Regions from separate parts of the Homo sapiens genome. Here region 2 is linked to region 1. Evidence: fine-mapped expression QTL. Tissue or cell type: cultured neurons. Region 1 holds a variant in brackets; the other region holds the start of a gene. All regions are shown on one strand. Distances are between the middles of the regions.

Region 1 (2,909 bases):
CGGGAGGATTCGGTGGAAACATCTAAGACTCAACTTAAACTGAAATTCATTTCTAAGAAAGTCAGCCAAGGTCCGGCACGGTGGCTGACGCCTGTAATCCCAGCACTTTGGGAGGCCAAGGCAGGCAGATCACCTGAGGTCGAGAGTTCGAGACCAGCCTGACCAACATGGAGAAACCCCGTCTCTACTAAAAACACACAAAAAATTATCCGGGCATGGTGGTGCATACCTGTATTCCCAGCTACTCGGGAGGCTGAGGCAGGAGAATCACTTGAACCCAGAAGGCGGAGGTTGCAGTGAGCCAAGATCTCCAGCCTGGGCAATAAGACCAAAACTCCGTCTCCAAAAAAAAAAAAAAAAAAAGAAAGTTGGCCAAGGCCATAGGATAGTCCTCATGCAAAAGTTACCTGTCACTGAGTCTTCCAGAAATGGGCCTGCGTCAGTAGCCCTATCACTCTTAGTCAAGACTAGGAGGATCCTTGGGATGAATGCAGTTGTAGATTTCAGTGCTCAGCAGATCAAACAGAGGTCAATCATGTTCCCCACAGCTGGAGATCTGAGAGGCTCATTTTCAAGGTCACCACATCTGAGTAACTTCTTTAACTAGAGAATCTCTTTCATATAAAAGGCATAGCATGGCTGGGCGTGGTGGCTCACGCCTGTAATCCCAGCACTTTGGGAGGCCAAGGCGAGCAGATCACCTGAGGTCAGGAGGTGAAGACTGGCCTGGCTGACATGGTAAAGCCCAGTCTCTACTAAAAATACAAAAATTAGCCGGGTGCAGTGGCTCATGCCTGTAATTCCAGCACTTTGGGAGGCTAAGCGGGGCAGATCATGAGGTCAGGAAATCGAGACCATCCTGGCTAACATGGTGAAACCCTGTCTCTACTAAAAATACAAAAATTAGCTGGGCGTGGTGGCAGGCGCCTGTAATCCCAGCTAATTGGGAGGCTGAGGTACAAGAATCGCTTGAACCCAGGAGTCGGAGGTTGCAGTGAGCCAAGATCGCGCCACTGCACTCCAGCCTGGCAGGAGTGAGACTCCATCTAAAAAAAAAAACAAAAAAAATTAGCCAGGTGCGATGGCATGCGCCTGTAATCCCAGCTACTCGGGAGGCTGAGGCAGAAGAATCACTTGAACCTGGGAGGCAGAGGTTGCAGTGAGCCAAGATCATGCCACTGCACTCCAGCCTGGGTGACAAAGTGAGACTCAGTCTCAGGGAAGAAAAAGAAATTGTTTAGACTACTAAGCTAGGACATTGGTGACTTCATATTGACAAGACTTAAGGGATTAAAAATGAAATAACAGGCCAGGCGTGGTGGCTCATGCCTGTAATTCCAGCACTTTGGGAGGCTGAGGCAGTGGATCACTTGAGGCCAGGAATTTGAGACCACCCTGGCCAACATGGCGAAACCCCGTCCCTACTAAAAATA[T/TA]AAAAAAATTAGCTGGGCATGGTGGTGTATACCTGTAGTCACAGCTACTTGGGAGGCTGAAGTGGGAGGATCACTTGAGCCTGGGAGGCAGAGGTTACAGCAAGCCGAGATTACACCACTGCACTCCAGCCTGGGTGACAGAGTGAGACCCCATTTCAATTAAAAAAAAAAAAAAAGAGTAACAAGTAACATATTTCTAGACACCCCCACATTATCCAGCTAAGAGACCTGAACTTGTCTGTCACAGCAACCTCAGTGACTGTCTAGACGAGAATCTAAGACTCCTGGAGAAGAAAAACTCACCCAGCATTCTGATCTGTAGACAGTAGAGACCGGACTGTAGTTTGAATATTACTTCCTTTATGGCAATTTGCCAGTTTGCAGGAATATCATGTCTTTTGGAGAGGGTCTCAATCAGAGAAACAAATGTTAGCATTTGATATTTCGTTTACTTCCTTGACTCAAGGGCAAGTGACTCCTGTGAGCTGAGGGGGTAGCATACTGTTTGCCTAGTGAAATACCATCTCTCTATCTCAAGTCAGGACATCATCTTCAAGAGAGGAACTGGGGTCATCGCTAACTCTGGAGCTTCCACTGGGGTACAAGTGAGGTGTCAGAACTTCACTGAGCTTAGATTCCGTGGCAATTTCCCATCTTCCCCCCTACCCTGTCACCCTTTCTCATGTTAGGCCCTCATTGTTTCCCATATGTTCCTGCACAATCTAACCAGCAATTTTTTGTACCAGGCTTATGAGAAAGGAGGAAGCCACATCATCACTCAACACCCCCTCCATAGCTCAAGCCTGGGAATTCCCCTGGACCCTCCTGGAGGCACTCTTTTTAACTCTGGTGACATTTCTCTTAAATGGGAGGGTCTACAGGCATTGGAGTTTGAAGGCAGAGCATAACCATTTATCCAGGGCAGGCATCCCCTTCTTTATTCCAGGAAATAAGTGGCCTGCCAACTTCCCACTTACAACTTTCATTAACCAGCAGCTTATCCAACTGTTGGCAGCTCACACAGAGCTGGCTTAGGTAACAAAAGTGCCAGTTTTTTGTTTTTGTTTTCTTTTTTTGAGACAGTCTTGCTCTGTTGCCCAGGCTGGAGGGCAGTGGTACAGTCTAGGGTCACTGCAACCTCTGCCTCCCAGGTTCAAGCAATTCTCCTGCCTCAGCCTCCCAAGTAGCTGGGATTACAGGTGCCTGCCACCACGCCTGGCTAATTTTTTGTATTTTTAGTAGAGACGAGGTTTCACCATGTTGGCCGCGCTGGTTTTGAACTCCTGACCTCGTGATCCACCTGCCTTGACCTCCCAAAGTGCTGGGATTACAGACGTGAGCCATCGTGCCCGGCCATTTTTTTTTTTTTTTTAACCCAAGCATCTGTTCAGTGATGTCCTGAACTTTGTTTCCCCCTCAGCCTTCAACTCTCCCTTTATCCAAATCCAGATATTTAAGTTGGTACCTATGTTCAGC
Region 2 (2,909 bases), 50 kb after region 1:
GTGGGCGGGGGAAGTGTTCAAATCTTTGCTCTGGCCGGTGCAGAGGGTCACGCCTGTGATCCCTGGACACTGAAATGCCCAGGCGGATGGATCACTTACGCTCTGGTGTTCCAGACCAGCTTGGGCAACACAGTGAAATTCCCATCTCTACCAAAAAAGAAAAATAGAACAGGTCAGGCGCGGTGGCTCACACCTGTAATCCCAGCACTTTGGGAAGCCGAGGGCAGACCACTTGAGGTCGGAGTCCCAGAATGGCCAATATGGTGAAACCCCGTCTCCACTAAAAATACAAAAACTACCCGGGTGTGGTGGCGCATGCCTGTAATCCCAGCTACTTGGGAGGCTGAGGCAGGAGAATCGCTTGAACCCGGGAGGCAGAGGTTGCAGTGAGCCGAGATCGCACCACTGCACTCCAGCAGGGGCAACAAAGCGAGACTCTATCTCAAAAAAAGAAAGAAAAAAGAAAAATAAAACAATGAGCCGGGCGTGGTGGCGCGCACCTGTGGTCCCAGCTATTGCGGGAAGCCGAGGTGGGAGGATCCCTGGGGCCCGGGAGTTCGAGACTGCAGTGAGCTCTTCCAGCCTGGGTGCAACAGGGAGACTTTTCTTTCTTTCTTTCTTTCTTTTTTTGAGATGGAGTTTCACTCTTGTTGCCCAGGCTGGAGTGCAATGGCGTGATCTCAGCTCACTGCAACCTCGGCCTCCCGGGTTCAAGCGATTCTCCTGCCTCAGCCTCCCGAGTAGCTGGGAAATGGGGTTTCTCCATGTTGGTCAGGCTGGTCTCGAACTCCTGGCCTCAGGTGATCCGACTGCCTCGGCCTCCCAAAGTGCTGGGATTACAGGCCTGAGCCACCGCTTTTCTCTTTATAACACCTTTTTCTCTTTATAACAGGAAAAAGGGAGGAAGAGAGAGGGAGAGGGAGAGGCGGAGGGGGAAGAGGAGGGAGAGGGAGACGGGAGGGGAAGGGAGAGAGGGAAAGAAGGAAATTAAATCCCTGTTCTTTTACTACATGGGGAAAGAAAGACATAGATAGATTAGATAGACAGATTAGATAGATAGATAGATAGATAGATAGATAGATAGATAGATTGATTAGATACATAGATATTAAATCCCTGTTCTTTTACTACATGGGGAAACTTTGGGCGGGTTTCCTAAACTCGGCTCAACTTGTTCTCCTGTAAAACAGGGATAATACAAGTCTTTACTCCACAGTTTCCGTGATGAAATTAAAAATGAAGTTCTTCCATCAACTTTAAAGTGATGAAGTAATCGGCGCTCAGAGCGGGCGCAGGCAACGCCGCTGAGGAGCCCGAGGCTAGGCTCTCGGGGGAAGGGCCGGGCGACCTCCCACCCCGGCCAGGGCAGGCCCCGCAGCAGCGAACTCGGCTCCTTCAGTGATCGCCCCGAGCTCTCGCCTGCCCAGCCCCCACGCCCAGCAACCCAGATACGCGCGGGGGTTCGGGCTCCTTAGCCCCGACCACTGGCGCCGCCCCGAGGGCCCGAATCCCCTCAGGCCGCCGGGTTCCAAGCCCGCGTGCAGCCCACCTCGTGGGGTGTCTCCTGAATCCCAATCCAGGAATCAGGCGTGGGGAGGTTTATCCCGAAGCTAGAGGCCCAAGGCCTGAGGAGAAGCAACACCCCTCCTCACCTGAAACCAGCAGGCCGCGGCCGGGCTCGCGAGCCCGCCGAAGACTCGGTAGTTACCTCGGCCGCACTCCGAATGCACCTACGCCAACTGCCACTTCCGGAGCCGCTCAAGCTCCCGCCAGAGCCGCCGGCAGGCATGCTCCTATTGGACAGAAGCCCTACGCTGTGGCCAATACCCACTCTTCTTCTTCAATGGGTCCCCCGATAGCTGAAGCAGCGGTGCTCTCATTGGCTGGTAGTTCGTCCTGACGAGGCGGGACCGCGCTTGAGGAAGCCTCCTACAATTGGCAGGAATCTACGTCCGTCACCTTGCACCCGCCCCGGAAAAAATGGGAGGTTTTTTTGTTTTTTTTTTGTTTGGTTTTTTTTTTTTTTTTTAGCGCGTTTTATTTGAACTTTCTGGCGGGAGAAAGTTATATGATTTCTCGGTCCATTTTGGAATGGGGATGATGATATTAAAACTGACTCCTGCTGCTTATCCCTAACGCTTTAGTGAAGGAGTTATCTGTATCCAAAGGATAGCAGCTAATCGAATAATTTCAAAATATTTCAATATTTTGAATTTCGGAGCCTGTAAAGAGGCGTAGGACAGTCCAGTTCATATGTATCCTCTCATGGGGTTGAAGAGCTCACGCAAAATACTTTGCCTACATAATCTCTTCAATCTCAAACCGCTGCAAGGGATCTGAGCTACTGAACAGTCTCAAATCACTTGTTAGGGCCGCCGCTCGCCGCCAGCGCCAAAAGAAAGGGGCCCCCGGAATTCTCCAGCTACGTACGAGGAGCGCGAGCCCACAGCCGTCTCGGCTCCGAGCCCGCCGCCGGCAGGAAAGCCACAAAGAAAACTGATAAACCCAGACAAGATGATAAAGACGATCTAGATGTAACAGAACTCACTAATGAAGATCCTTTGGATCAGCTTGTGAAATACGGAGTGAATTGTGGTCCTATTGTGGGAACAACCAGGAAGCTGTATGAGAAATAGCTTTTGAAACTGAGGGAGCAAGGAACAGAATCAAGATCGTCTCCTTCAGCAACAATTTCTTCTTCAGCAGAAAATACAAGGCAGAATGGAAGTAATGATTCTGACAGATATGGTGAAAATGAAGAAGACTCTAAATTGGGCTCAAGTTTGAGAAGAGAGAACCGCTAAACAGGGGAGTAAAGACTCCAGTAACCCTCAAGCAAAGAAGAGTTGAGCACAAGGAGAGCTATTCTCAAGCTGGAATAACTGGGACTGAATGGACAAGTGGATCTT

Alleles and levels. Positions count from the first base shown, and alleles are read on the strand shown. Sizes are in standard deviations (SD) of each study's normalised expression.
With allele T in place of TA in region 1, the expression in cultured neurons of the gene that starts at base 1,744 in region 2 is higher (moderate effect, 0.66 SD a copy in Aygun 2021).

Evidence for each region.
Region 2: RFWD3 starts here. The variant in region 1 is fine-mapped to the expression of RFWD3 in cultured neurons (Aygun 2021, PIP 0.95).

The regions. Positions count from the first base shown.
Region 1 is chr16:74,615,172-74,618,080 of GRCh38, forward strand. No RefSeq gene overlaps it. Among named protein-coding and RNA genes, the nearest start is that of GLG1, 9.5 kb to the left of the region's middle. The variant T/TA (reference allele first, on the strand shown) is at 1,434.
Region 2 is chr16:74,665,134-74,668,042 of GRCh38, forward strand. RFWD3 (ring finger and WD repeat domain 3) reads right to left here and starts at 1,744. Exons shown (of 13, transcript NM_018124.4): 1 at 1,653-1,744. It also overlaps the pseudogene TMPOP2. RefSeq lists a silencer at 1,274-1,423.